Linked DNA regions of Homo sapiens: region 1 is linked to region 2. The links come from fine-mapping of genetic effects on gene expression. A gene starts in region 2. The other region holds a variant in brackets. All regions are shown on one strand. Distances are from middle to middle.

Region 1 (16,103 bases), 62 kb after region 2:
AGATCAGCATAGAGATAAATTGGAAAATCATTATCCATATTACAAAACAATTCATTACCTAGTTCTTCTCACTTAATAAACTAATCGACGGAAAAAGTGAAGTAAATCAATTATATATCTCAGAGACTATACCTCAGCATCTCTAAAAGTCTATTTTTGACAAGATTGGGTCAAAGTTGCTGGATTAAGATTATATTATTTTACAAGGAATATCTTTTCTGTTCTCTATATGAAAGTTTTCACTAAAAGAAAACATTCTTATGGAAATGTAATAGGTACAACAGAAGAATACCAATAGTATAAACTAGCTGTCTATAGATAAATCCAGATTATGTTAACAGTTCTTTGAGATCAAAAGAAAAGCCTACATTTTAGGGAAGCACGTCTCAGTACAATTTTGGGCCGGAGTACTGATCATGGATGATGTGAACTTGCCAACACCCATGTACCTCAAATGATTAGTCTCAGTCTAAGAAGTGCTCAGACCAACAGCATCAGCATCTTCTGGTGTGATGGTTAATTTTATTTGTCAGTTTGGCTGGGCAGTGATGCCCAGAGATATGGTCAAACATTATTCTGGATGTTTCTCCCAGGGTGTTTTGGATGAGATTAACATTTGTATCAGTGAACTGTGAGAAAAGCAGATTGTTCTTCCTAATGTGGGTGGGCATGATCCAATCAGTTAAAGGCCTGGATAGAACAAAAGACTCATACCTCAACCCCCTGACATACTCCAGCAAGAGGAAATTCTGTCAGCAGACAGCCTTTTGACTTAAACTGCACACTTTAGGCTTGCAAGTCACCACAATTGCTTAAGCCAATTATTTAAAATAACTGTCTTACTCTCTCTCTTTATACACACACACACACACACACACACACACACACACACACACACACACATATCCTACTGGTTCCGTTTCTCTGGAGAACCCTAACAATACACCTGGAAACTTATTTGAAATGCATATTCTTTGGTCCCATCCCAGCACTGTGGAATCTGACGTTTTGAAGGTGGGGTCAAAAAATCTGAGCTTTAATAAACTCTCCAGCTGATTCTGATACATGATAAATTTCGATAGTCACTGTTTGATGCATGAGCAAGCCTAAAATCAAAAACTGAAATGCATATAAAATAGGTCAGATAATTCTAGTAGCTATTTGTTTGGAGAACACAGATTATCTCTTACTTTACTGTAAGTGTGACTTTACTTTTAAATAACCCTCAATCAAAATAGTGAAGGCAGTATATGAAATCCATCATGATCTACCCAACCACAAAAATTATTTGTGCTAAATGATTACTTGTAGAACTGAGAAATAAAAATGAAATGCTAAGTCCCACAAATGACTGAATGGACATCCTCTTGACCAAGGGGACCCCAAAGGAATCTTGAAAAATGAATTCCTGACCATGATGGGATGGGAGGTCAGACAGGCCTTATTATACCACCTCCCTGCCTCGCTACCATTAGGCTTTCTTTCCTAAGGGTAAACAGAACAGCCCTTTGGAAAGGCTTGCACCACCCTTGATATCAACCAATGACCAGATGCTGCCCCTCCCTTTCGCCTTCAACAAAGCAACCAGCCAGCATTCCTTCCTGATAAGAGACTACCAACCACAGAGTGGTTCTGCCCAGTCTAGGAAGGATGTGCAGTGGGGGTTTTCATGTCCCCTGCTTCACCTTTTGATGTCAGAGGACCAAAAACTCCACCCTCGGATCATGCTAAAGCTGCCATTTTTTGAACATGAGTTCCATGGAGAGGAATGAAGCTCAATTGCTCATGCACACATTTCTCCTTTCATAAATATTCATGACTCCTCCTACAGCTTATTGACTATGAGTATTATCCACCTCGTTCAGCATGATTTCCTGTCTTATTCTTCCTGCCCTCCAATGGCCTGTTTCTGGCTTCTGACAGGAGGCTACACTTCCCAGTCTGTCAGAATGGCTACCCTGCAGGCTGCAACCTTTTATGAGCGCCATCATTCTTTTCAAAACACCATCATTCTTCAGTTGACACAATGAAATCTCATTAATCTGGATTTGGTTAATTAGAATTTGGGGTATTTTAGGCTACACTAATGATTTTGTTTTTTCATCGATAACACAAAAATATTAGGTAAATATTTAAAATATGTTAGTTTTCAAGTTCTCTCAAATTTTAGAGCACTTATTAACCTCTAATATATAGGCTATTTTATGGGCTGAATTGTGTTTCTCTAAAATTCATATGTTGAAGTCCTAACCGTAGTACCTCAGAATGTGACCATATTTGTAGACGTGGCCTTTAAATAGGCTATTAAAGTTAAATGAGGTCATATGGGTAGGCCTTAATCCATATTTGGAGATAAGGCCATCAAAAGATGATTAAATTAACTGATGTTAGTTAACTTATTTATAACTGATTAAATTAACTTATTTAGAGTGGGGCCCTAATCCAATATGACTGGTGCCCTTGTAAGAAGAGGAAATTTGGACACAGAGACACCATGGACATGCATATACAGAGAAAAGAGCATGTGATGCACATGCGTGTTTATTGCAGCAATATTTACAATAGCAAAGACATGGAATCAACCCAAACGCCCATCAATGATAGACTGGATAAAGAAAATGTGGCACATATACACCATGGAATACTATGCAGCCATAAAAAAGAATGAGTTAATGCCCTTTGCAGGGACATGGATGAAGCTGGAAACCATCATTCTCACCAAACTAACATAGGAACAGAAAATCAAACACTGCATGTTCTCACTCCTAAGTGGGAGTCTAACAATGAGAACACATGGACACAAGGAGGGGAACATCACACACTGGGTCCTGTCAGGGAGGTGAGGGGCACAGGGACGGAGAGCATTAGGACAGACAAATACCTAAAGCATGCTGGGCTTAAAACCTAGATGACGGGTTGATAGGTGCAGCAAACCACCATGGCACATGTATACCTATGTAACAAACCTGCACATACTGCATATGTATCCCAGAACTTAAAGTAAAATTAAAAAAAAAAAAAAGAAAAGAAAAAAAAAAGAAAAGAGCATGTGAGGACACAGCAAGAAAGTGGCCATCTGCGAGTCAAGGAGAAACACCTCAGGAGAAACCAAGCCTTTCAGCCTCCAGAACCATGAGAAAATAAATTTCTGTTCTTTAATGCCACCTAATTTGTGATACGTTGTTATGGCAGCCCCAGCAATCTACTACAGACTGTATACACATCTTTGTTATCTGCCCATTACTTTTAGTATATAGTCTTTGGTAGTAAAGTCTATTCTTCAACTAAGACAAAATTTTGCGTTGGATGATCATGATGTCTACTCTCCAACACCTGTTCTACCTCAGATTATTAGGCTCAGTCTAATATAGTAATCCCATTTCTGAGTGATTAGTTTAGGAATGGGCATGATCTAATCCTAATATAAGAAAATGCTGAAGCAGGCTGGGCGGGGTGGCTCACGCCTGTAATCCCAGGTCTCTGGGAGGCCGAAGCAGGTGGATCACTTGACATCGGAGTTTGAAACCTAGCCAACATGGTGAAACCCCAACTCTACTAAAAATACAAAAAGTAGCTGGGCATGGTGGCATGCACCTGTAGACCCAGCTACTCGGGAGGCTGAGGCAGGAGAGTTGTTGAACCCAGGAGATGAAGGTTGCAGTGAGCCGAGATTGTGCCATTGCACTCCAGCCTGGGCAACAGAATGAGACTCCATCTCCAAAAAAAAAAAAAAAAAAAAAACCCTGAAGCAAACCATTTCCCAAAATCCAATAATCCAATGTAAGATCAGCAGTTTGCTTTGCTCACTGAGACTATGCCTGGTCAGCACAGTTCTCTCTAATTTCTCATGTCACCTCCTGACATATAATTTATTTATTATGTTGTCATTTATTGTCTGACCCTGTCTCACCCCCACACCCTGTTTTGTTTGCTGATGAGTCTCAAGGGCCTACAGCAATGCCTGACACAGAGTAGGCAATCAATAAGTATTTGCTGAATGACCATCTCCACCTCCAGGCTTCTGATTGCTAACAACAAACTGACCCAACTCTTTCCTCAATTTCAGTGAGAAAAAAATCCCTCATACACAAACCACTCATATATGTTTAAAATCATGTGACTGATTTTAGTGAAGACTTGGAAGCAGAAGCAGGAGAGAGTTGACTACAGCCATGCATAGGGTTCCCATTTAAACATTAGGTACGTCTCCCCATTTGTGAGATGTCCTTTGGCCTCTCCCCACCAAGGAATCTTAATTGGCCTTTGAGATTTTAAAAACAACTCCTCATTCTCTAGGAAAAGAGTAACAGTTCTAGAGCCATGGTAACCAATAGCAGAACCAGTTGTAAATCAATCAATGGCAATCCTATAGTCATAGTAACAAATAAACAGAGTCTTCTTTTAAACTGTTTTATCTATCAACGATAACTCCCTTCAGGAAATGCACTTCTGAAACCAACCAGTCAGTGACAAGTTTAAGCTTTGAAAGTCAGGTGGTTGGTGGCAGACTCTCACTCAAGCATGCATCTATGGGTAAGGCCAACCCTAAAACAAACCATACCCCAAAATCTGATATAAGGTCAGCCATTTGCTTTGCTTACTGAGACGATACCTGGTCAGCTCGGGTCCCCGGATTTCAGATACTGAGTGGTGGTCTCATCCTTTATGCCACTCAGTCCTAAGCCTCACACCACTACACCTGCAACTCCCTCTGTTCTGCTCCTCTCTGCCCCCCCAGCTACCCCCTTTCTCCTTTGTCTCATTTCATAAGCAAGATAAAATCCACTCCATCTCTAATGCAGTAGATTTTAACCATTCTGATGCTTAGCTTCGGCCAATATACCCTTCTATTTCAAAATAATTTATTAAGATGCTGTCCCACTATTTCCAATAGCAAAGACATGGAACCAACCCAAATGCTCATCAATGATAGACTGGATAAAAAAAATGTGGTACATATACATCATGTAATGCCATGCAACCATAAAAAGAATGAGATCATGGCCTTTGCAGGGACATGGATGAAGCTGGAAGCCACCATTCTCAGCAAACTAACACAGGAACAGAAAACCAAACACCGCATGTTCTCACTCCTAAGTGGGAGCTGAACAATGAGAACACATGGACACAGGGAGGGGAACAACATATACCAAGGCCTTTTCGGGGATGGGGGACGAGGGGAGGAAACTTAGAGGACAGGTCAATAGGTGCAGTAAACCACCATGGCACACGTATCCCTATGTAACAAACCTACACGTTCTGCATATGTATCCTGGTTTTTTTTTTTAGAAGGAATTTTAAAAAATTAAATGAAATAAAATTATTTGAAGGTGTCAATGGTTAAAAATAAAAAAATACTATGTTCATAGTTCTTTTCCCAAAAAAAGTTTATATATATATGTATACACATATATATGTGTGTGTGTGTGTGTGTGTGTGTGTGTGTATATATATACATATATATATATATATATATTTTTTTTTTTTCCTTTTGAGCTGGAGTCGCTTCGTCTCCCAGGCTGGAGTGCAGTGGTGCAATCTCGTCTCACTGCAACCTCTGCCTCCCAAGTTCAAGCCATTCTCAGCCTCCCAAGTCATTGGGATTACAGGCGCATGCCACCACAGCCGGTTAATTTTTGTATTTTTAGTAGAGATGGGGTTTCACCATGTTGTCCAGGCTGGTTTCGAACTCCTGACCTCAGTGATCCGCCCACCTCAGCTTCCCAAAATGCTGGGATTACAGGCGTGAGCCACCGTGTTACACATACTATTTCAACTATTCTTCATGATATTCCTAAGAGGTAATTCTTCTAATCCTTAGTTCGAAAAAAAAAAAAAAATGGAGGTATAGTGAGTTAAGTCATTAGCCCAAGGCCATGCCATCATTAAGAGGTAGAACTACAGGGCCAGGTGCAGTGGCTCACGACTGTAATCCCAGCACTTTGAGAGGCCCAGGTAGGTGGATCACCTGAGGTCAGGGGTTCGAGACCAGCCTGGCCAACATGGTGAAACCGCATCTCTACTAGAAACACAAAAAATTAGCCAGGTGTGATGGTGGGTGCCTGTAATCCCAGCTTCTATGGAGGCTGAGGCAGGAGAATCACTTGAACCCAGGAGGCGGAGGTTGCAGTGAGCTGAGGTCATGCCATTGCTCTCCAGCCTGGGCAAAAAGAGCAAAACTCTGTCTAAAAAAAAAAAAAAAAAAAAAACAAAAAAACAAAAAGAGGCAGAACTATGATATAAAGCTAGACCTTTTTTAACTTCAAAATTTATGTTTTTTCACCATAATATGCTGCTGCCACAGGAGCCATATCTTTTCTCTAATCCTTTTTCTTCAACACCACCCCCTAACCTCTTCTTCTCCATGAATTTCCCTTAACGCCCCCTAGAAAGATGCCACCCGAGGATTAACTTCTGTCTAGGCAGGAAGGGAATAATAGGACACGGGGATGGAAAATCTTTAAAGTGTCCTTGATTCTGAAGCTAAAAATCCTTTTTTTCTCCATGTCTTCTTGTGAATTCCTCTTGCCTGTTAATCCTCTGGTTTTGAATTACATGTGAACCTTGGGTCACCATGCACACCTAAGCCCTCTAATATCTCAAATGCTGAATCTTGGTCTGTCCATTTGGACTTATTCTGATTGCACTACTGACATGCTGTAGCTTGTGCTGGCATTCCTGTTTCCAACTGGCCCTCACAAGGGTTCTACCTACTCACACCTCCAGATATTGTTACAGCTTCCCAAGACACTCACCTGAGAACTAGTGTTGCTAGTACCCAATACAACAATATAGCAACCAGATTAAATGAATAAAGCCCTTTTATACCTGACAAATGAAAGAAATTAGACGAACATCAAGTAATCCTCTGATTCACACAGTGACTAGTGATCTAGCTGAAACACAAAACTGCCACTCTTATGTGTAACCACCAGTAGTGGTTATTATCTACAGAATTGAATCCAGGTCTTAACATGGTATAGAAAGCCGTTTATGACCTGACTCCTACCTACCTCTTCACATTCATCTTCCACTACTTCCTGACTCAACCTCAACATTCCAGCAACTCTGAAATAATAGTAATTTCTTGCACATTGCTGCTGTTTCTGTTCATGTCCTGGAATGTCTTTCTTATCCTCCTAAACCTCTGTCCTTTTCGGGCTAATGTTCATTCATCCTTTAAAATTCAGCTCCAGGATAACATTCTTCGTGAAGCCATTCCCAATGCCCTAGGCTGGCTTAGGTATCTCCTAAATATATTAATATTTCTGTCACTGTGTCACCATACCACAGGGCAACTTTCCTGTATGTATACATCTTCTCCACAAGAATATAAGCTTCTTGAGAACAGAGACTATATTATGGTTTGAATCCCAGTGTTGGCGTCCACTATATTGTAGATATCTAATAATTGTTGAATGGATTTCAATTAAAACAATTAAAATATTGATAGCATCAAGAGTTGTGATTATGTCAGTATTTAATCCCTAGCACGGAGATAACTTTACAATTCTGATAAATTCTGATTTTACAAACTCCTTTCATGTCACTCATGCAGCACCTAGCTCAGTGTTTGCTTGGTCCACAGTAAGTGCTAAATAAATATCTTTTCAGTTGAAATATAAGAACTGGTGTGTTGGAGAGAGAGTTAGAGTAGGAAAGCAAGTCACTTATCCTCTTC[A/G]AGCTTTATTTTCCTCATCTGTAAGAAACTACCTGCCTCGAAGGATAATTTCAATAATATACGAAAAGTCCTTAACACAGCTTGGAGCATAGCAACAATTTAAAGTAAATGTTAGATTGAATCATGATATTGAACAGCTAGGAAAACCCTTCTCTGAAATTCAGAAGTAAAGGCAATTTTGAATAGAACACAACCAACCTATTTCATTTAGCTTCAAAATATTTTTGTGATATATCACATACCTTTCTCCTGAAGATGAATTAATAACTGACCAATTCTCTGGAGCTGAATAGGAATAAAAAAGTCACAGTATCAATGAGAAAAGCTCAGGATGAACAAGTTTTATATTAAAATGTGAAATTGTATAATACTTACCAAGTTTCCTGCTTTTGGGGCAACTGTCTTCCGTCTATTTTAATGGAAAAAAAATTGTTAGAGGAGTAATCGGAGTATCAAAATTCAAAAATTTTACAAATTATTCTTATGTCTGATTTTGAAAACTAGGAAAAGGGGAAATCAACCATTTATTCTTACCTCCTGGACATCTGAACTACCCTTTTCAGGAAGTGTGGGCTTCTTCCAAAAGGATGCACAAGCTTTCATGAGTATTATCTCAAAAATAATTCCTAGTAAAATTATAAAGAAAATTGCCACCCAATCATTTTGAATAATCCAGGACTCTAGAAAGTCCCATAATGTCATGAATGTATTATCTTCCAGTCCACTCCCTACCCCTTTTTTAAAGGAATAATATTGCTTTGACATTTTAATGTCATATGTGAAAGAGACTGGTGTCTCATTCAGAAGTCCTTGATTTCAGAGGCCCTGAAATATAAAACCTCGGTATGCCCAACTCATAACCATGTGCAACATTTGGCCAGTGCTGCTGGTATCTTATCAAGTGCAGCAGTGATTGCTCTGGGCCTAAGTTAAGTGAGGTACGTGTCATAGTGGGTATTTAACTGAGCTCATATTAGCTTTAGCAATAATGGAAGTTCATAGGTAAGATATGTACACTGTATAAGTAGTTTTTTACTAAAATTCAAAAAATTACCTTCTCTTAACTTCATAGATAGCAACATAATTCTATCATGGATTGTTGCTGCCCTATTATAAATATAGAATAAATTTGGATTGGTAGAAAGCATTTGACATAACCATTTCTATTAACACCAGGAACAATGTATTTTATGCTTCTTTGTGGTAAGGAAAATATAGTCCTTTCTTAGAATGAATATAGATAGAGTTGACAGGTTTAGCAAATAAAAACATTAGATGCCCAATTTAATTTGAATTTCAGAGAAATGTCGAATAATTTTTTTGGTCTAAGTATGTCCCATTACAACTATGTAGAATGTATGATGACTTGTCTTTTATGAGTCTGATTTTTTTCTTAAAATAGAACACATTTTATATTTCTTTTTGCTAGCAGGGTCTGTTGGCACCATTTCCCTTCAACAATCTATTGACATGCTGAAAACTAAAGTGTCTTTGGAATAACCTCCTGGTGAATTTCCTTTTCACCCTGTCTACAGTGATTTCAGGGAGCTACTTGTGATGTCCTTTCCGATGTCAGAATTAAGGGTAGGGCAGAGGCAGATGTAAGTACAGTACTGCCCACTCCCCTTCAAAGTCTAGTGGGTAGGCCTGGAAGCTTATTGAGCAAATATGATTTTAGTCACAAGTAGACAGGATAGTCTGGACTAATAATGAAAAATGTTAACACTACCTTGGATTTAGAGTACTCTTCCTTTGAAGGTGTAATTAATTAATACTTCCTTTGCAGATGTAATTCATTAATGCTTCACTTTGGTTTTGTTTTAGTACTTCACTTATCCAAGGTAGGTTAAGCAAAGAAGTATTATTCATTACACTGAAGTATTATTCATTACACTGAAGTGAACAGTTCAGGCCTCTTCTGTCACATCAGTTTAAATAAGTACAACAAAGATTTATGACTTCAGCTGGGCGAAGTGGCTCATGCCCGTAATCCCAGCACTTTGGAAAGCTGAGGTGGGTGGATGGCTTGAGCCCAGGAGTTTGAGACCAGTACTAGGCAACATAGGTGGACCTCCGTCTTTACCAAAAATTTAAAAATTAACTAGGCATAGTGGTGTGCACCTGTAGTTAGTCTCAGCTACTTGGGAGTCTGAGGTGGGAGGATTGCCTGAGCCTGGGAGTTGAAGGCTGCAGTGAGCCATGATCCTGCCACTGCACTCCCATCCTGGACAACAAAGCAAGACACTGTTGCAAAAAAAAAAAAAAGAAAAGAAAAAGAAAAAAGAATTATCAACTCTTACTGTCCCTGAACATTGAAGATCAAGAGATCAATGACATTCTAAATGTTGGAATTTACAGTCTTCCAGTCTCCTGGACCACAATGTACAGGTATTTCTAATCTTTATTTAAGTATAATTCTTATCTTGAATTTTGTCTTCGCAAAGAATCGCCCTTTAGAATGCTTGGTAGGTCTTCATTGGCTCTGAAAGAAACTTCAGCAATTCCTCTTGATTTTTCTAGAACTATGGTAAAGTACACCTTCCCCGTACTCCCCTGCCCACAAAGACAATTGAGGTGATTTTAGTCTCCTGGGTTTCCCCATAAAATTCAAGCAGCTGGGCCAGGCGCAGTGGCTCATGCCTATAATCCCAGCACTTTGGGAGCCCGAGGCAGGTGGATCACCTGAGGTGAGGAATTCAAGACCAGCCTGGCCAACATGGTGAAACCCCGTCTCTACCTAAAAATACAAAAATTAGCTGGGCATGGTGGCAGGTGCCTGTAATCCCAGCTACTCAGGAGGCTGAGGCTGGAGAATTGCTTGAACCCGGGGAGGCGGAGGTTGCAGTGAACCGAGATCACGCCATTGCCCTCCAGCCTGGGCAACAACAGCAAAATTCCATCTCAGGGGGGAAAAGAAAAATTAAGCAGCTGGAAAAATACTGTTACTCTCACCTACTTGCAGAAACTCTCTAAATCATTTAATGGTAACTATCTTAAAAGGGATTCATTGTTTCAACATTTTCTTCTCTCTAGTTAATAGATCTTTCCAAGCTTTATGGTACTGAATCCCTAATTAGCATTCCACTGAAGAGCTCTTAAGGAACTGAAAAGGAACTGCTGCGTACCACTCCTGCTGATGGGTAGGTTTACATAGGGGTAAGTATTATCCCTCTCCAGGGCTTTGTCATGTTTGTTACTTATGTACTTGCTACTAACAAAAGTATAATTATCTATTTTTCAGCATAAATGCTTCTGTCTCTTGGACTAGAAACCTCTCAGACCAATGTCAAGTGAACAGCATCAAAAGTAAATGCTAAGCAAGATTTACTTGCTTACAGAGTAAAAAGAAAAAGAGTATCAGAGAAAGCCTATTACAGTAGTAAAACATAGACACTACGAGAAAACACAATGAAAATTCTATTAAAGTTTTTTTTAAAACTTCCTATTATATTTACCAATGTTACCATCTTTGAACTATCTTGACATTATGAACTTGGTTTTTGTTCTTTACTTAACAGGAAAAAGTCCCAATATTAGATATATAAAACAGCAACATAAAGCCAGATATTGTTCAAAATTGTTAGAAATTCTTTCTGTAAATATCTTAGTTTAATACATGTGTTGAATAATAAATGTGTAAAGCACTGAACAAGGAACAAAAACGTGCTTTAACACATTTTGTTAACGTTTTGTTAACATCTTTGTTAACATTTAACAATGATGAGGAAAAAAAATCCCAAACTTGAAGGAATTTGTAATGTAAGTGAGATGGAGATATTAATAACTTAATGAGAAGGTAGAGTTCGGTTAACACAGAAAGGACGAAGATATTACAGGGGTTTGAGGTGAGATGCTTGGTTTGGGGTAATTTCAAGGAAATCTGCAAAGAGGGGAAAAAAATCCCCCCTACTCATTTGGATTTGGTAGCAGGCAAAGATGAACAAACAAAGTAGGAAGAAGAGTAAGAAATACTTCTTCCATTTTATAAACATTTATATAGTCCATGTTAGCTATAGCACGGTTACAGGTGTGAAGTCTGGGAAAAGAAGGCTAAAATGTTGACAGAGCCCTACTGTGGAGCCATCTTCGGAGATCTAACAGTTTTTGAGTTGGAAGTACCAGCTGGTGTATCAAAGCAAGGTGACAATAAAATTGGAAAATCAATTAGGCTACTGCACTGATAGATGAGAATTGATAAGGGTCTGAATTAGAGTAAAAGACTGAAACCCAGGATTTAGCAACTAAAAGAAAGCAAGTGGCTGGGTGTGGTGGCTCATGCCTGTAATCCCAGCACTTTGGGAGGCTGAGTTAGATTGCTTGAGCCCTGGAGTTCGAGACCAGCCTCGGCAACAAAGCAGGACCCTGTTCTCTACAAAAATATTTGAGACCCCGTCTCTCTAAAAAAAGATAATTTTAAAAAGTAGCCAGGTGCAGTGGCAGGCGCCTGTAGTCCCAGCTACTTGGGAGGCTGAGGCAGGAGGATCCCTTGAGCCCAGGAGTTCAAGGTTGCAGTGAAGTATGATAATGCCATTGCATTCCAGTCTGGGTGACAGAGTGAAATTCTGTCTCAGAAAAATAAAACTAGGCCAGCGCGGTGGCTTTTGCCTGTAATCCCAGCATTTTGGGAGGCCGAGGCGGTCGGATCACTTGAGATTAGGAGTTCGAGACCAGCCTGGCCAACATGACGAAACCTGTCTCTACTAAAAATACAAAAATTAGCCAAGTATGGTGGCACACACCTGTAATCCCGGCTACTCAGGAGGCTGAGGCACGAGAATCGCTTGAACCCGGGAGGCGGAGATCGCGCCACTGCACTCCAGTCTCAAAAAAAAACACAAAAAAAACAAAAAACAAAAAAAAAACCTAACATAATAAAAAAAAGCAAATGGATCAAGGTGGGGGATGGAAGAGTTCATGGTGAGGGAGAAAGGACTTACAGATAATCCCAAATCTGGTTTGTCTAAGATGAGGTTTCCCAACGTGGGCACTAATTGACATTTTGGACAGGACATTTCTTTGTTGTGGCTGCAGTACTGTGTATTGTAGGATGCTTAGCAACATCCCTATCTTCTACCTACAGAATGCCAGTAGCACCCCAACCCTAGTCGTGACAAAAATATTTCCAGACATTGCCAAATATCCCCTAAGACAGGGGTCCCCAACCCCCGGGCTGCAGACCAGTACTGGTCCGTGGCCCACTATGAACCAACAGTAGGCAAGCCAGCATTACTGCCTGAGCTCTGCCTCCTGTCACATCAGCTGTGACATTAGATTCTTATAGCAGCAGGGAACCTTATTTTGAACTGTGCACATGGGGGATCTATAGGTTGTGCGCTTATGAGACTCTAATGACTGATGATCTGGGATGGCACAGTTTCATCCAGAAAACATCCCTACCCCCGCCACTCCCAACCCAGTCAGGTGGAAAAATTGTCTTCCATGAAATGGGTCCCTGGTGCCAAAAAGGTTGGGGACCACTGCCCTAAGGGGTAAAGGTCCCCCCTGGGTGGGGAGCATTAGTCTAGGTGAGTGTTTATGAGGCAGGAGAACAGGGTCTGGAGGCAGAGAACCTAAGACCAATTCACCCTGACTTCCTACAACTAAGTTGATAGGAAAACCCCAACTTTCCATGCCTAAGTAACAAAAAGACCAGAGGCTACTCCCTTTGCAAACCCACACCTTATCTGTGCAGCAGATAGAAAATTGAAAGTTGGTTGCAAAATTGGTTGCTTTCTGCAAACAGACATTTGCATGGGAGTGTAACTTTGTAACTTCACTTCAGCCTCTGACTGGTTGCTTTCTGCAACCAATCAGACTGACTGTGGGCCACCACTTCATTTACATGGGGTGAACACCCAGGTAGACAATGGGAAACCTCTAGAGGGTGTTTGGGCCCCAGAAGATTCCTTTTCCAGGGTCCTTGAGCCGCTGCTTGGGCCCACTCCCACACTGTGGAGTGTACTATCATTTTCAACAAATCTATGCTTTCTTTGCTTCACTCTTTCCTTGCTTTGCTGTGCATTTTGTCCAATTCTTTATCCAAAACGTCAAGAACCTGGACAACTTGCAGTCAAGACCCCCTCAATAACAGCTATGCCATTAATTAGGGCCTACCAGAAGAGGTGCCAGAATGGCTCTTTGATTATAATCTCAAACTTGAAGGGGCTGAACATTTTCCTGCAAGGCGTGGTAAATCTATGGAGGAGAGCAGATGTGACCTTTTCCTAAATGTTCGTTTCTGCTGTGGATACATCATTCATCTTTCTCTAGGAGTTCTATGTTCCCCAAATATGGCTAGCTATACAGTCCTCAAATGTCAAGCCATTACATCAATAAGGAACAGTAGTTTCTTATAGAAAACTCAGGGGAAAATCAACTTTAAATGATCATCTACCTACATTACCCCTATATTTGATGTAGTATCTTTGGTCATCATATTATGCCTATAGTTTAATTTTGCAAACGCAAATATTGTAAATTGTATAGCCTGGTCAGTAGCCTTTTAAATGTTTTGTTGTACTCTAACATTATGTAATAAGTTGTCTTTTGTGTTTTCCTTGTCCTGTTAGCTTTACTTCTGGTTCACAATACTTATGTTCTTCAATGACTTATAGTGGTTAATAGACCAGTGATTCTATCTTCTTGATAGCTTTGGATATTTTTTATGTTTATCATCTTTTGATATTAGTAGTGTTTTAAAATTTCAAATGTTAATTATTGTTTACTTATACAACATTCTTAAAAATTTAGGTTCAGGAAATGACTTTTAGTCAAGAATATCTATTATAAATAGTCACAGGAATTTTAAATTTATAGTTATGCATCACTTTACAATGTGAAAGATTTGGACATTATTACCTACGTTTTCATTCTCTTTGTCATATTTAGAAAACTAATATTTTGAATCTACTGATTCCATCAGGGCAGAGGAATAAAGGGCCTCAAAAATCTGCAAGCTGCCCAGGCCACTTGAGGCTATTTTAATGGCCTAACATTAAGAGTAGTAGGGAGGATATGCAAAAGATTAAAGAAACATTTCTTACTACAAACTTCTATTTAAATTTAACATCAGCCTCATCACCTTTTGTGAATTTTACAGGAAATACAGAAACTATGTTCTTTATATATAACTCAATACCATTCAAGCTCGAGATCAGGTGATAGCTGAACTTTCCAAGGCAAAATTAAGTGCCCCAACTGCATAGATATAGCAAAGATGTTAGTACTACAATTTAGCAATTATTTCTCTCTTTAATCAGAGTAGTCTATTGATTTTACACACTATGTTGTGTTTTTGAGACACAGTCTCACTCTGTTGCCCAGGCTGGAGTCTAGTGGTGTGCTCTGGGCTCACTACAGCCCCCACTTCCTGGGTTCAAGCAATTCTTCCACCTCATCCTTCGAGTAGATGGGACTATAGATGTGTGCCACCATACTTGGCTAATTTTCGTATTTTTAGTAGAGACAGGGTTTTGCCATGTTGGCCAGGATGGTCTCGTAGAGACAGGGTTTTGCCATGTTGGCCAGGATGGTCTCAAACTCCTGGCCTCAAGTGATCCTGGCCTCAAGTGATCCGCCTGCCTCAGCCTCCCAAAATGCTTGGATTACTGATGTGAGCCACCGTGCCCAGCCTCACACACTATGTTGTAAGCTCCAAGTTTTTATTCATCTTTGCAAACCCAATGAGGTTTGCCTGTAATAAGCCTTCAGTGAACACTTCTTGAATTAAAGATCTTTATTTCATTCTAAAAAATCTTCAGGGTCCCCATATTTGAAACATATGTCCACTCCTATCCTTTCATTGTGATTTATTAAAAGATAAGGTGAAGAGATGTGTGCATTCTATAAATCTCTGACTAGATTAACCATAATGTTTTCCTTTTCTGAAGATAACGCTGCTCTGCAAAATTTCTCAGTTGCCTATCAATAAGACAAAAGCACCTTTTTGTAACAAAATTCAGATGTTTAATTTTTTTCAAAACTTAACTATACTAATGAAAATAAATTATATGTAGACCACCTTCAATATTTTTACATCATCTTTATACAACTGTAACAGTGCTTTCAAAAGACATTTTGTGAAGGACATTAATTTCACATTTAAAACGTGTTTCAAAAATAAGGGAACATTAAAGAACATCAAATTAGTCTGAAATATATCTCACAATGCTGAGAGGCATACTCTTCTTTATCAAATTAACTGTATGTGTACTCAAGATAACATGGCTTTTAACTAATGACATTTCTTGTCCATTTCAGTAATTTCTTGGATCCAAAACAAAATCTGTGTATTTATTTCTTTGAAAACATCATTTGTCGACCGTCCTTTCACTGCCATGGAATGATTTGCCTTCTCAATCCAGTGGATTTTATGGGGAGCTTGCATTTTCTGTGCCACTTTCTCCAACAAGTTCTAAAGAGA
Region 2 (16,103 bases):
ACTTCCTGGAGATGGCTGCAGGGGTCCTTCCTGGTGCCCTGCCCTGTGAGGGGCTGGCCGCAGGGTGTCATGCGGAGACAAAGCTTTTCTCAGGGACAGCTGTGTCTTTTGACATTGCAAACATTCCCCCGCCAGCCCCTTGTCCTGTTAGCAAACTCTGAAGAGATCTTTTCACAGAGTTGCACCTGAAGTCGCACAGGAAAAGGGCGCCTTCCCACTCTAGATGCCCTTCTTGTGCAGCTTTCAGGAAGCAGGTTTCATGAGAGGCTAGTGTTTGGTGCATGAGTGATACCTTGTTCAGAATAAAACAGGGGGACAAATATTCTTTTTTCAATTTCTGATCTTTTTTTTAAAATTATTATTTTTAAAAGGGAGATGGGGTCTCACTATGTTGCCCAGGCTGGTCTCAAACTCCTGAGCTCAAGCGATCCTCTTGCCTCGGCTTCTGAAAGTGCTGGGATTACAGGCATAAGCCACATGCCCGGCCTCTGATCTCTTACTATACCACTTTCTCGCTACACCACTGCTGTCGTCTATTTGCTGAATGTGTTACAATAGGAAGCTGTGAGTAGTTTGGTGATTTTCAAACTCGTTTTTAAGGCAAAGAAAAGCCTTTAGTTGAAGGAAATTATATGCATAAGGTGTAAAAATAGAGCTCCCTGTTTGGGAGTGAGTGAAGGTCGACACCTAAGAGCCTGAAGCCCTTTGGCTACCCTTCTCCCCATCCTGTGCCATCGCCAGATGACCTGAGGGAGCCCCGTGGAACCACTAACCAGGAATACTCAATGTGGGCACCCTGGCCCAGCAGATAGGCATCACCCCGGAATGTGTAAGACCTCCTGAATCAGAATCCGCATTTTAACAAGACTGCAGATTGAGAACTTCTGATCTGGAGCCTTTCTAATCACTGACAACATCCGCAGTGGGAAAAGCAACCACACTGGCTCTGAGGGCCACTGTCTATCTTGGCTCTGCCCTGCACCCCAGTCGGGAGCTTTACCACGCCAGCAGACTGGCCTGCGTTCCCATTTCCTCAGCTGAAAGGTGGAAAGAATATTACATTAATGAGGACAGTTCATGTGAGCTTACGCTAGGACTTCATTTAATCTCACAATCTGAAATTAATTCTCACAATTCTGACAACCACGTCAGGAGCACTGTAGACATTACGACCACCCTAGGTTTTAAATATGGAAATGAAGGCAAACGGAGGTGAGGTGAACATTTGTGACTACCCAGCCCTGAAATGGCAGCTTTTCTGACTAAAAATCCAGAGGACTGCCCCCATTTCAGCGCCATCCTCTCAGGGCTGTGGCAGGGGTGACATGCCACAAAGTCATGCTTCCTAAACATCCCTACCGACACAGCCCCCATGGAAAAGAGATGAATGGCTGGCCGGCCGGGCGTGGTGGTTCACGCTTGTAATCCCAGCACTTTGGGAGGCCGAGGTGGGCAGATCACTTGAGGTCAGGAGTTCAAGACCAGCCTGGCCAATATGGTGAAACCCTATCTCTACTAAAAATACAAAAATTAGCCAGGCATGGTGGCGCGCACCTGTAGTCCCAGCTACTCGGGAGGCTGAGGCAGGAGAATTGCATGAACCCAGGAGGTGGAGGTTGCAGTGAGCCAAGATCGTGTCACTGCACTCCAGCCTGGGTAACAGAGTGAGACTCCATCTCAAAAGAAAAAAAAAAAAAAGAGAGAGATGAATGGCTGAGGGTCGATGGGCGTGGCTCGGAGATGCCCACTGCAAAATCTAAACTCTAAATCCCTGGGTTTATTCTTAACAATTTATACAAGTTTTGCATTCACTTCCTCATATAGCTGAGTTTATTTAATATAAAAATAATGTTTCGAGAAACAGAGCTTGAAGCAAAACCAGTGTTTCTGAAAGAAACACTGTTTTTGCTGATCCCAAGCACTCCACCAACACCCTCCAGGGGGCAAGCAACTGAACCTCAAATTGAGAAGCAGGATATGAAGGAACTTGACAAATTGTCCAAGGCAACTCTGAAGTACGGAATTGTTATCTCCAGAAATCCTGACATCACAAATATGACAGTTCTCTCACCCCTGGCCACACCACCGCTCCGTAACTCTCTATGGATTCCTGGATGACAATCTCCTTTCCTGCAAACCGATAATGCTCCTGAGTGTAGCTGGCGTAATCTGTAGGAACAAATTTCTGGAGGCTATGAAGAGATGGTTCTATCTTGTTGGATTCTGTGAAGCAGAAAAATAAAATGGAGTTCATGATTTGTTCAAATCCAGTGCAAAGACACACTTGGTATAATTGCTAAGATGGCATTAGATTGAATGACCTTTACATAAAGAGAAGGGATGATGCTATCAAGGAGAACGGCTGCAAATTGGCACAAAATTGAATTATATGGGGTGATGGGGACATGAAATTTGGATGTGACAGTTTTATCAGATGACAAAATGCCAAAGAATGCTCTGGGCCTTTTCTTTATTTAGGGGAGGACAGAAGATGTGTGGATCGGTCCCCACCCTAAATTTTGCTGATGGAAAAATGGCGAACTTACCAGCAAAATTGCACGAATGAGCTGTCTGGATACAGAGGAACTAGGTAAACACAAACCTGCCTTTTTTTTTTTTTCTTTTTGAGACAGAGTCTCACTCTGTTGCCCAGGCTAGAGTGCAGTGGTGTAATCTCAGCTCACCGCAACCTCTGCTTCCCGGGTTCAAGTGATTCTCCTGCCTCAGCCTCCTGAGTAACTGGGATTACAGGCGTGCGCCACCACGCCCAGCTAATTTTTGTATTTTTAGTAGACACGGGGTTTCACCATGTTGGTCAGGCTGGTCTCAAACTCCTGACCTCGTGATCCACTCGTCCTGGCCTCCCAAAGTGCTGGGATTACAGGCGTGAGCCACCACGCCCCGCCAGACCTGCCTATTTTTAGGTCTTGAAGTGAAGTAACATTCCCACGTGTTGGCTGGAGCATGTTCCTTCAATCTTTCCTACAATTGCTGTTCAAAAGGTAGAGGCCCAGCCAGCCCCACAGCCCTGGGGGAGGATGTCAGCTGAGCTCTGGCTATTAAGTTACTATTGCTTTAAATACTCCTTTAAACCCATGACCCATCTAGCAGCTCTCAGATGGCATATAAAATGAGAGGAAAAGAGCACCTGATCGGGCTGACATCAAGAGATCACAAGTGTTTGCAGGTTTTCCAGAGTGTTTAGGAATAAAAGAGCAGTGAGTCAAAGTGTGTGGAAGAAGGAGCAGGAGCAGAGGAAAAGGTGTTGGTCCCAGCGGGTGGGAAAGAATTAACAGTGCGGAGAGTAGGGGGGAGGAAGGTCAGTTTTGTTTGCACGAAACCTGCCTTTGTGGCCTGGGATATGACTGTAAAATGTTTAACCGGGGGTCAAATATGGGCTTTGGACAAAGGTAGAAGGGGGCAGCCGGTGAACATTGGAAGTGTTTTAATCTGAAATAGCCTCTCAAGGTGGAAGGCAGGAGGAGGTGAATACGAGGCAAAGGGAAGTGGGTCTTGGGAGAAACCTGGTCAGCAGGGCATCCCTCAGGTCGGGGGCAGGGCCTCCGGGTGTTTCAGGTCTCACTCATTCCATACACACTGGAACAGTTCCCTGCCACTGCTCTGCAAATGCTGATAACAGCTCCACAGTAAGTAGAGGGATTTGGAGTGAGCCTTTAGAAACAGTCACAACCATTTGACGATGCCTGTTGAATCTAACTACAAACAAAACCCGGAGCTTGTATTTTATATGTCTGTATATATTTTCATTTAATTTCTCTAGAAATTCATTTTTGTTGTATATTACAAAAGTATCAGTGTGCAGCACACTAAAAAAAAAATGTGAATGAAGTGACTCATTTGTAAATTAGCATCATGGGTGCCTTCAGTTCTTCAGAGTGTTGTTTTAGCCTGTGACTTTGATTTAGTATGTTCTACCACTTTGAAGGAGAATTCTCTGCCCTGACAAAAAAGGTGAGCTTCCAGAAACCTGGGACCTCAGTGAACTTGCAAGACGCCTCTAATAAAGGTAACCAATTCAGTCCTGAGACCTTGTCCTTTGCGGTCACCTGCCCTGGTAGGAGGCTGTAGGGAGATTGTAGGGAAAGGAGGGAGCCCTGTAGCTTTCCCCACCTCTTTTGGGAAGCCACTGACATCTAGCAGAACCCCAGCTCCCAACACAGGGCTGAGAGGCTGGCTCTGAATTCTGGTTTAGAGGCAGGAGGAAGGCCGAAAAATAGGGTGATTAATGTTTAATAACTAGTTCAGCAAGAGGGGAAGAAGCGGTGATTGACAGCGTTTGACGATTGCTCTGGAGTAAATACTCCCACCGTGCCGTTTTCAGAGAAGCAGCATGACTTCGCTGGGGAAAGACGTGCAGTACCTCGCCACTGTGTAGTGTTCCTACCGTACAGACACCACAGACACGATTAACCTCGAGAGCATAGATATTAGGAAGAGGTAATAGAATAATTGATGATGAGTTTTGAGTGTTTATCAACTTTGCTTTTAATATACCTTTGTCTTTAATATAATCTATTTAATCATAAGATTCTAACTTAAATTTAAATGATGGTTATATATAACAATCAGCTACAAAAAATGCTGAAATTCAGGTGCCAGTACAAGCCGTCGCCAGCACACCACTGGGTGGTGGCTCAGAGCATCAGGGACCTGTACCAGCCCCTGCCGGCTTCCCTGCCCTGCCCCACTCTCATCCAGGCCATGCCTGTCCCTCCTTCCAAATGTCACCATCTGGGGACTTATTTTTCTCTAGAGACTAGGAAGAGTAAGTAGGCTGATTTTGAATGGCTCATCATTTCACAGGTAAATAAACTGACAAATATTAAGCTTGACAGCTGCACTTTTCCAATCAACATTGTAAGGAAACATAGACATACACGTATTCTCTCATAAGACCCTGTGAGGTTCTACAACGATAAAGAAACATATGTTTTTGTGCCTGAAATATTTTCATTTATTCTCTGTGCTATTCTGATAGTTTTAGAGAGATCAGATTTTCAGATAAGGTAGAGTTGCATTTTTACGTAAACAATGCAGTAAAAATAGACAACATTCTCATTTATTGGAGTTGGGATACATTTTTTACCACCTTTAATTATGAACACTGTAAATGCTGCATCTTGGCTTTTATTAGATCATTTGTTATGTCTATTATTTATTTACAACTGAATCCATGCCCAGAAATGTAACCCTAAACTGTTACATTGTCCTAACGGGGAAATACAGTTTGATTTATAAAGATTCACTGTATGACAAAGCTACCAAGAATGTATTTTGGTGAAAAGCAGAAATGAACCTAGATTTTTTGTTCTTCTTTTAAGTTCTTGTTACAAAAATACAGCAAGCTTAGATCTATACATAGAAAAAAAACAAATGTGCAAACTTTGATAAGTAATGAAAAACCAGGAATTACTTTTAATAAGTAAATAATGAAAAAACAGGAATTATGTTTATACTTGCAAAACATTTTTCTGCTAAGCTTCATTATAGCAAAAAATCTAATGTTAAAAGGAAATGGAAATTCTTGTCACTGAAATTTACTTGAAGATGTCATCGCCAGGAAAACAACTGAGGAAAACTGTTGAAGTGATGAAGAAGGAGGTTACCTTCTAGGACTCCCCCGGTGCTGTCTTTCTGCGGAGCCCCCTTCTTCTCAGCCTCTAACCAGCCACCCGGGGAGCTGAGTCCTTCCCCCCGGCGCCCAGGCTGCTGCGCGGAGCTCAGACACACGTCCATAGCCGGCTGTCCCAAAGACAGCTGTGCATTGAAAAGCAATCTACAAAAGAACGACTATAATCTACTGACTGACTGTTACTAGTTCAGCACATCTATGATCTACATCGCATGTTCGTAATTAATACAGAATTGGAAATGACTCCTTGTTAGTATGCCCAAAATAATTTTGAATTGTTACACGTATCTTTACCTTATGCAGCAGAAGAGATGTGAGGCTTCTGTGCACTCTTTAATCCCCAGTGTTTTATATAGGTCTACACCTGAAAGGATTAGCATTTGATGAACAAAATCCAGCCAGTGGAAGCCCAAGTTATTTAGGGTAGCATTATCTACCAGTCCTCATAGACACATTACTTTGCTAGAATTCTCTCTCTTTCTCTCTCTCTCTCTCTCTCTCTCTCTCACACACACACACACACACACACACACACGCACAGTCCTAGCAACATTCAATGGAATTCCCTTCAAAAGTTTCAGGAATATCACTGGAACAGAACAGAGGCTGCCCCTGTGGCATCCAGTTGCTGCGATGTGGTTCGAAACGTTAGACTTCCAGTTCACTTTTCAAAGAAGTGGGTGTTGGACAGTTGCACAGACTTGCAAATTTTGTGCTCATTTGCCAAACTCCAGTAGCCACAGGGAGGACATGCCCACCCAGCCTCTGCCTAGGACCCGTATCCAGGCAGCCAGAAAGAACACAAGGATCTACCAAGAGGAAGGGAATGCTTTGGGGAGGAAGAAAGGAGAGCATCTATCCATGAGAAGGGACGGGAGTCAAAGGCTTAACGTTGAATCTGGGGGATTTAGAGCAGAGGGAAGAGGAAATCAGAAAAACTCTTCCAAGAAAAAGTAAGCCATTGTGATTTATTTAACTGAAATAAGGGATAGTCAAAAGGGAAGGAGAAAAATCATGTGCTCATTTGTGAAGCTCAGAAACCCTTAAAATAGAATATAGGTCACACAAAGTAAAGCCTCAGACAAATGGGAATTAAAGAATCACTTGTGATAGGCTACATTCAACCAGGGAGTTGGATGAATGGTGTTTTAACCTGAGTAGATATAAAAGCCCATTTTTGTTTTTGTACCCACCCTCGGTACTCGTTTCTCTGGTGTCACTATTTTGTGTTCTTTATGTCAGTTTCTTTTCACTCAGGATGTTCATCTAGATGTGCTGTGGTCCCATGTAAATCACCTTTCCCACTTTCTTAAATGACTGGGGATAAGCCGGCATTTGTTCCAGCTCTATCGTTCTAATGCTTTCTTATTCCCCAAATGCATCTAGTTCTATGATTGCATTCTGCATCTCTGCAACTTATTTCTTCCAGGTGTCATCAGTCCCTATGAGAAATAGCAAAAAGATAGTCATCAGTACAATTCTACAAAAACCTTTTAAAAACTGATTGCAATGTACGTGAATATATGTGTGTATATTTATATGCATGTAGACACACACATAGACAAACATATGCGTTCATTCTACAAGCTTTAAAATGAAGCAAAGGACGAAGGAAAAAATGTTGATCTCCTTTAATTCTACTATCTAGAGAAAGAAACCTCACCAACTTTTTTTTTTGTATCAACTTCTAGGCTTATTTTTTTTGTATAAACTTTTTTAAAGCTATTTTACTGAAAATGTGACTTGATAGAAACATGTACCTCTTTAACCTAGCATCCTATTAAGAGTTCCTTTTTAGGATGAGTTCATGTCCTTTGCAGGGACATGGATGAAGCTGGAAACCATCATTCTCAGCAAACTAACACAGGAACAGAAAACCAAACACCACATGTTCTCACTCATAAGTGGGAGTCGAACAATGAGAACACATGGACACAGGGAGGGGAACATCACACACCTGGGCCTGTCAGGGGGTGGGGGACTTAGGGGACGGAGAGCATTAGGAGAAATACCTAATGTAGATGATGGGTTGATGGGTGCAACAAACCACCATGGCACGTGTATACCTATGTAACAAACCTGCACATTCTGCATGTGTACCCCAGAAATTAAAGTATAATAAAAATAAATAAATAAATAATTTAAAAAACAGTTCCTTTTTAATACTTTCTTCAAAGCCATCTTTTAGATAGCTGCTTTAAGATATACATCAGAGCTCTATTGCCTGGAGCTAGACCACGGTAGATCAAAGGCTCTTAAATGCTGGACTTACCTGTAGGCAGAGGCTATGTCCAAATCACCCGGAAGCTTTAACATGCGTCAACTCCAGGCTCTGGCAATTCTTGTTTGCAGGTGTGAGAAGGAACCAAGAAGTCTGAATTCCCTGTCTGAGAATTGTTCTCTGACATATGGTAGCTCCTGGCACATAGTAGGTGTTGTAATTGCTGAATTTGTTATTGAGCGAAACTCTGAGTGCCCAAGCAGCCACGGGAAGACTCCAAAGGTTCAGGAAGGGATTGACGGGGGGCAGGGCAGGGAGGGAACAGGGCAGGGACACACAAGTTGTTTTCAAATAGTTGAAGTGCAGCCGGTGAAAAGGATTAGTCCTCCTGCATGGCTTCGGAGGGCACGCTGATGAAGTCAGTTACTGGGAAGCAGATTTGGGCTCAACAGGAAAGAACTTTCTAACAAGTAGAACAATGGAACAATTGATCCCAAGAAGCCTACATAATGGAAAGTGGGCCAGATTTGGAGTCAGAAGATACAAGATTGGATCAAAGGCTCAATAAGGAGGCTATTCATGTGCTGTCACTCGCCTCTCTCTGTCAGGATGGGCACTGCCTTTTTTCCTATGAAATCTGGCTCTCTTGGGCTGTGGTTCTCAAGGGGGAGTCCTCCCCTCTTGCCAAGGGGACATTCAGCAATTTGGGGGAGACATTATTAGTTATCGCAATAGGGGGTGGGATGCTCCTGGCATCTAGTGCACGGAGGATGCTGCAAAACCTCCTACAATGCACAGGACAGCCCCGCACAGCAAAGAATTACCCAGCTCAGAATGTCCACAGTGCAAAGGTCAAGCCACCCTGGGCCAGGCAAAGGATCAGCATTGCCATGAAGGGTAAACCACAATTACCAGCCTAGGTGTCTACTGACTGAGTGATGTCAGGTGAGTTGTTCCCGCCTCCCCTGTGTCTCAGTGTTCTCGTCTATACGGTGGAGGTGGATTTGCATTGATAGAGGGATTAACACAGGACCAACCCTGAGCTGCATCTTCCAAGCATCCCAGAAGCCCCCATCTTACTTAGTCTGGTTTCTCGATGAAGCAGACTCCAAGGCAGGGATTTGAGTGAAAGTATTTTATTTGGGGAGTGTGAATAACACAGCAAGGAAAGTGGACGCAACCCAGGGAAAGGGTGACATCCTGCCACGTGTGTGCCACAAGACCAGCAACAGGAGCAGGCGACCAGAGCTTAACCCCATGGGGAGACACTGGGAAAGGAGGCAAAACACACACTTCAGAATTATTCCACTCCAGCTGCAGAGAGCTCCGGTGGTATTTTTCCAGCAGGACCTCAGCTACACATGCAGAGCAGCAGCCAGGGCACTCCAACACATCTGACACACATGAGCGAGGCCAGGACAGTATCTGCTACAGCTTCATAAGATGCCGTTGCTCCTTTCCAGAATCAACAGGAGCAAGTGAAATTTTATATATCTGAAAGAATCTGGCACAGTGCCAGGTGCTCAGAGGGTCCTCGATAAATAAATGTCTCATATTATCTTGTATGTTGTTCAAACAGAGGGTTGAGTCCACAGGGTTCTTTGGAAGGGTTCTGGATCACTCACCTAATCATATGGAAAAGCTGAGCATCTGAAACCATCCCAATAAACTTTATTCATCAGGGAAGAAGGGAGGGAGAGAAATGAGACTAAAATGAGCTTGCAGCACACGCAGCATGGATCATGAGGTCGGCCTGTTCTCTGACGCACTTCCTTGTTGTTGTTTGTCTGTTGTCTTAGAATCAGATAGACCCTGTTACAAGATTATAGATCCCCTTATCTGCTCTAGAGATAACAACTAGAACCTTATGAAATGTTGTTTTCCTTTGAGATATTCTTTCACGTCCTACATGCCACTAAAACCACCCACATCAGCAGGTCTGAAGGACCCCCCAAGAAGCTGACTCACCAAAGCACACAGGCTCCACATCCTGATAATTTCATCCTCCTCACCCTGACCAATCAATGACCCCAATTTTCCAGCCCCTCATCCTCCAAGATCCCCTTTAAAACCCCAACTCAGAACTCTCGGGGAGATGGATTTGAGGGTCTTCTCCCATCTCCTCACTAGGAGCCCTGCAATCATTAAACTCTTTCTCTGCTGCCTCCTGGCTGTCTCAGTGCATTGGCCTGTTACTACACAGTGGGCATATGAACCTGTTGGTCCTATAACACATCGGCCTTGAGATATAAAGGGTCCAGGGCTGCTCTGGTTCCAGAGATATCAGCAGCAGGAGTTCATGGACCTTCTGTTTAAACATTGCCATTGAAGGTCACAACTGCAGTCACCATCCATCACTGTGTATCTATGGTCAAGATTCAATGTCTAGGGAAAAAGATTCCGAGTGCTCTTAGTCTTAAGTTCACCCCTATAGTCAGGGCTGGGTTGTGGGAAGCCTTGCACCAAACCACGAAGAGCAGGCTGGCAACTCAAAGAAGGGATGCAGGGCCATAACCCATAAAAAGCAAGGGTTATAATAGCCCTCCTACCCTTCTTCTCACCCAGTGCATACATACTTCCTTATTTGCATAAATACAACTTCACAGTGGAGACCCACCCTTTCTACAGTGGAAAATAACCTGAAGTCTCCTCCAGCTATTGCAACTAAAGGCAATGGAGTTGCACTTCCCAAGTCCAAACCTCTAGATGATGTCCATTTCTTCCCTGGCTCCGTTGCTTCTTCCATAACAGGCACATGATCCCAGGGGACCACTGACAATAACTTGATTGGCTGTTTCACCACAGCTCGCCCTGGGCTGCTATTCCTGTTCCCATCCCAGAATATGAATAGGAGACTCATTGATTTCCACATTGATCTTTCCTAAAAGGTCCACAAAGGATGAGATACTGATCAGGCAAATGCAAGACATACCCACCATGCCTACTTATAAGGGAGACTCAGTGGGAATTCCCTCCCAGAGAAGTGAGGGTTTCATTGGAGACACAGACCTTCTTCAAGAACCCTGGAACCACCGACATTCAATGTGTGTGATTTCCAGTGAGTAATGGAGAAAAGGTCAAAGTGAAATCATGCAATTTCATAACTTCTGGTCCCTCAATTAGCTGGTAACACAGTGGCCCAAATGTCAGAATCCTGTCTGTCAAATGGTCCAGGGCTGCTGCAATACCCCCCCGACCCAGCCCTGCACTGGCCAGACTTCTGGGGGAGTCCCCTGAGAGCAGCCGCTGTGACTGCCAGCTGCTTCTATATGGGATGCAAAGACTGAGGCCACTTAGAACACCTGTGCTTCAGGATTTTAAGACAGGATTCTTCCTGCTTTGGATTTGGCTCTGGTAACAATTAAATCCTATACCCACTCAGGTACAGTGTCAAATCTCCACCTGCAGAGAAAGGAATTTTGTAAACTAAAATTTGTCAGACTTGCGAACATGGAAAATATTACTTCTGTTTCATCTTAGATGACCAACATTACCAGTGAAGAAGGAAATAAAGCATAGCAGTAAAATAATCCAATAGGTTTGGAAACAGCAGTGAAGTTATAGTCTTTTTATTTTAAAAATAGCACATGCCTGTCCCTAAGCATTCGAGCCCCAGGCTTCACTGCAGGGGATGGCCTGGCTGTCCATAAATCACCTGCCTTGTAAAGTGGCTCTGATCAAAGGCCAGTGTGTTGCCTTGATAGACTTATATGCACTTTGGAGAATAGACATACTTAGTTGTTCGCTTCTATTTTTTATTTTCTTTCCCCAATCCAGTCCTTAAAACAGATTTCCCCTCAAAGAAATTTTATTGTAATTTTAGAAAAATCTCCAACTGCAACTATGTGTAAATCACAACGGGTAACTGCCAGGTTTCATGTTATCAAAATAGCCAAGAATGCTTTGCAGCTGAGCTATAAGCATGTGATATTAATTACACGGAGGAACGCTGTGCTTGGGAAACAAGTTTGGATGAGAAAGTCTGACACTGAAAATGTGCTTGAAATAAGGGATACTCTGGCAACGACATTTATTCTATTTTCCACTTTAATAAATGATACCTTTCTGCAGCTCACTTTAATCCTCAGATAAATGAAGTGAAATAAATGTATCAGTGTGGAAACACCATATCTTCACAGTGATTCAGCTTTGAAGCTGAGGAGGGGCAAGGATGCCTCGGTTCCTGTTTTACTGTGAGGCCTGGGAAGCAGCAGGAGAGGCTGCCCCATGACTCTGACACCCTACGACTCCCAGCCAGGAGCAGATGCCTCCAACGCTGTCCGTTCTTTCCATAGCGCCGTCCGCTGCTTGGACATGACACTTTTGAGAGGGGACTTAGTTGTCACTAATCATGCTCCGATTTTAGCAACAGCAGTTGACCACTGTTCAGAAAGATCATTTTTTCCCAACAGATTTCTATTAGGAAAGAATGTGTTTACCTGATGGAACTATTCTGGGATGTGCCACAACGCGGAATTCCTTTCATTCCTTCCCCTGTTCTAGGGGAAGGAATGGACTCCATTGGAGAGACGTTCTCCCATGAGGCCATGCTGTCAAGGTTTGGGGGGAAATACTCTGAATTATTTAAATATCTATCCAGGTGAAAAGCAACAGAGAGCCTGTTCCTTGGAAGCTGAGCCCTCCCCCTTTCCAAATAAGTGGCCTAGATGCGCCTCTTCAGCTCTGGGGTTCTGTTTCCTTCGTCTCTGAGAGACATAGCACCTTTCACATACCAACTCCACCAGGTTCTGGAAGGAAATGCCTCTGGGAACTTCTCCAATCTGCTTCTACCCCATTCTCTAGTAAAAAGCAAAGTATTTGGGTGGAGAAATAATGAAGCCATTCAAGGAAGCTGCCTCCATAGCTGCACCTTCTCACGGACAACCACTGCCCCTTGCGTGCAAATCTTATATGACCAAGACAAACGTTTAGGGGACAAACCACTGAGATGCTGGAGGTTTGTTATCACACATACTTCTAGTCTAGCCTGATTGTGTGTGTGTGTGTGTATGTGCGTGTGTGTGCATGCATGTGTGGCTGTGTGCATACTCTTGTCAAATGATTATTCTACGAGCATGAAGAAAAGTACAAGGCACATGCTGCAATATTAGTGGGAGCTGATAAAAGGGGAATTTGTGTGTAATTCCTCCCTTTAACAGACTAAAGAAGAAAAACTATATGATCATCTTGAAAGATATATAAAAAAGTTTGGTACAAGTCAACATCATTCATGGTCTTTTAAAACCAACATAAATATTAGGGGACTTCGGCAGGGCCCAGTGGCTCATGCTATGATTCCAGCACTTTGGGAGGCTGAGGCGGGCAAATCACTTGAGATCAGGAGTTTGAGACCAGCCTAAACAACATGGTGAAACTCGTCTCTACTAACAATACAAAAATTAGTCTGGTGTGGTGGCGGGTGCCTGTAGTCCCAGCTCCTCTGGAGGCTGAGGCTGGAGAATCACTTGAACCTGGGAAGTGGAGGTTGTAGTGAGCTGAGATCGTGCCCTTGCATTCCAGTCTAGGTGACAGAGCAAGACTCTGCCTCAAAAAAAAAAAGTGTGTGTGTATATATATACATATATATATATGTAGAGAGAGAGAGAGAGAGACAGAAAGAGAGAGAGAGACTTCATAAACCTGACAACATGTGTCCACTGAAAGCCCACATTAAATATATTCATTATTTATACATAATACACACATTAAATGGAGGAAAATTACAAAGACAGGAAAAAGACAACAATATCCACTGTCACTGTTCCTATTTAGCATTGTGTAGAAGTCTGGACAGTATGATAAAAGCAAGGAAATGAAATAAGAGCTGTAACAATTGGAAAGGAATAAACGAAGTTTCATGTTTGTAGATGACATGATTTTCCATATAGAATATGCAATAAATTCTATAGACAAACTATTTGGAACTAATGAAGGAGTTTATCAACTGCGTGTAAGATCCTGTACAAAAACAGGATTTTTTTTTTTTTTTGAGACGGAGTCTCGCTCTTGTTGCCCAGGCTGGAGTGCAATGGCGCAATCTCCACTCACTGCAGCAACCTCCGCTTCCTGGGTTCAAGTGATTCTCCTGCCTCAGCCTCCCAAGTAGCTGGGATTACAGGCATGTGCCAACATGCCAGGCTAATTTTTGTATTTTTAGTAGAGACAGGGTTTCACCATGTTAGCCAGCCTGGCCTCGAACTCCTGACCTCAGGTGATCCACCCACCTCGGCCTCCCAAAGTGCTAGGATTACAGCCGTGAGCCACTGCAACCAACCCCAAAAACAGCATTCTTATATACGAACAACAAAAATTTAGAAAGGGTAATTTTTAAAATATGCCATTTGCTATATAACAATAATTCCAAAGTACCATGGAATAAAATATATTGAAAGATGTTACATGAAACTGTCTTTTTCTCAAGATCTTTCCCTGTAATTGATGGAGAGACAGCTTCAAATAAATACTCTCATTGCAGTGGGATAGAGGTAACATGAGCTATCATAAACCACCTGGTTATGACATTTACCAATGACACCTTTCTTTCTATAGCTGATGACTAGATCTTCAGCAAAATAAATCAGAAGCTTTTAGAGCTTCACGTGCTGCCCTTCTCCTTTCCCCTCCCTGCTCTCTTCTGCTCCTTCCTCTCCTTTCCTAGAGCTTAGTCAATGGGCAGCTGGAACTTCTAGCCCTGAGGGTTCTAGGTGCCCCGTAGCCAGGCCTGCAGGCCAGAAAACATCAAATCTCAAGGTGCTGCCACAGTTAATTCATTGGTGTTCTTTTTCTCTCTCTGTCTCCAGCTCTGTTTGCTTTTTGTTGTCTTTCATTACTCAGTTAAAGTTAACTGCCAGTTTCATTTAGTTTTGTCAAAATAAATGGAAAGAAAACCCTGAAGCAGGAGATGAATGTAAACTGGGAAAATCTTGCAAAATCGCAAAGATAGTTCTTGGCGCTTCTGTTAAAGGAAACATTATTCAGCGACGCTCGTTACAGCACAGTGAAGCAGATGTTATTCAGGATCATCAGGGTTGGTGGAGGAACCACGGCAGTGAGGTTTTGTGGTGGGGGAGATGGGGCTTGTGAAAATATATAATTCAAAATCTAAGCTGTTGGAACTTTAAATTATTTTGACCCTTAAAGGAATGTGATTATGGGGCCTGAGTCAGGCAAGCAGGCAGACATAACCCAGGCAACTGAAACCTGTGTTTCTCTGATTAGAGATTAAACTTCTTCCTTCCCTACATTGTTCTATTAAATGTAAATGACTTAAGGGCCTCAGGGAAGACCTCTTCCCTATTCACTGTGGATCTTCATTATAGATTAACTTTCTCCCTACCTTTCTCACACAAAGACTTTATGGCTATCACATTGTCTTAAGATGCAATACTAAATATACTGTTTTAAATTGGAAAGAAAATGAAAACAAGCAGCAAACAAACTGTCACCATTTAAATTGCCGTAACTCATAAACCAGCTTTGTATAGAAAATGTTACAATCCAACTAAACTTCTCTGTTTTCTGCCTATATAAGCAAAAGCTTAATTTTTAACGTCAGAGCGCTCACCTCATTTCTCTGGAGTCTGTGTTTCCCAGATGGATATTCTCAGCTTTTCAAAGCTTAAATAACTTCTTTCAAGCTAGGTTCTAATTCTTTCGATTATTTCAAGTTGACAGGGTCAAGTTCTACCACAGCAGGGGCAAGTAAGAACTTATAGTCAAGGAGCAGGGAGGGGGTCAGTGGATAGAAAATTACTATGAGGTAACATCTGGGTAAGGAGGATTCTGGCTAAACCGACCTAACAGGATTCTTGCTGAAGACAGGTCGGGGTATGAGACATCACCTAGGGGATGGTGGAGGATGAGGAATCTTACCCTGAAGATGAGGAAGATGGAAGATGATCAGATATCAAGGGTTCTGGCTAAACTGACTTAGCAAGCTTCTTGCTAAAACTAGATTTCACAAGGAAGTGCACAGCTAGATCAAGAAGTGGCATGAGGAACCTGGGTCATGCAAGAATTTTTGTCCCTTCCAGAGACAGAGGGCACTGAAATAGATACACTTCTCCCTGAGACAGAGAAAGGTAACCTTCTAAAAGCTCTGGAATGAAAGATGACATTTACAGCTTCTTATCTCTTAGATTTCAAATGCTATTGTCAACTGTAATACAAAAAAAAAAAAAAAAATGGTCTCTCTCTGTCTTCTCTCTTTTTAACAGGTTGGGATTTTGC

Direction of the effects. Positions count from the first base shown, and alleles are read on the strand shown. Sizes are in standard deviations (SD) of each study's normalised expression.
In carriers of allele A in region 1, the expression in skeletal muscle of the gene that starts at base 6,303 in region 2 tends to be lower than with G alone (moderate effect, 0.58 SD a copy in GTEx).

The links. PIP is the estimated chance that this variant, and not a neighbour inherited with it, causes the effect.
Region 1: its variant is the best candidate, but not a certain one, in a credible set for the expression of METTL21C in skeletal muscle (GTEx, PIP 0.56).

What each region holds. Positions count from the first base shown.
Region 1 is chr13:102,750,487-102,766,589 of GRCh38, forward strand. It overlaps LRTM3 (leucine rich repeat transmembrane protein 3), which reads right to left and starts at 8,586. Exons shown (of 4, transcript NM_001146197.3): 1 at 8,216-8,586; 2 at 8,057-8,090; 3 at 7,924-7,966. The coding sequence starts at 8,446. LOC105370337 (a long non-coding RNA gene) reads left to right here and starts at 9,168. Exons shown (of 3, transcript XR_931685.4): 1 at 9,168-10,069; 2 at 10,715-10,821. It overlaps TEX30 (testis expressed 30), which reads right to left. Exons shown (of 6, transcript NM_138779.5): 6 at 15,402-16,094. The coding sequence ends at 15,915. RefSeq lists a silencer at 4,456-4,677. The variant A/G (reference allele first, on the strand shown) is at 7,682.
Region 2 is chr13:102,688,742-102,704,844 of GRCh38, forward strand. METTL21C (methyltransferase 21C, AARS1 lysine) reads right to left here and starts at 6,303. Exons shown (of 4, transcript NM_001010977.3): 1 at 5,628-6,303; 2 at 2,072-2,223. The coding sequence starts at 5,757.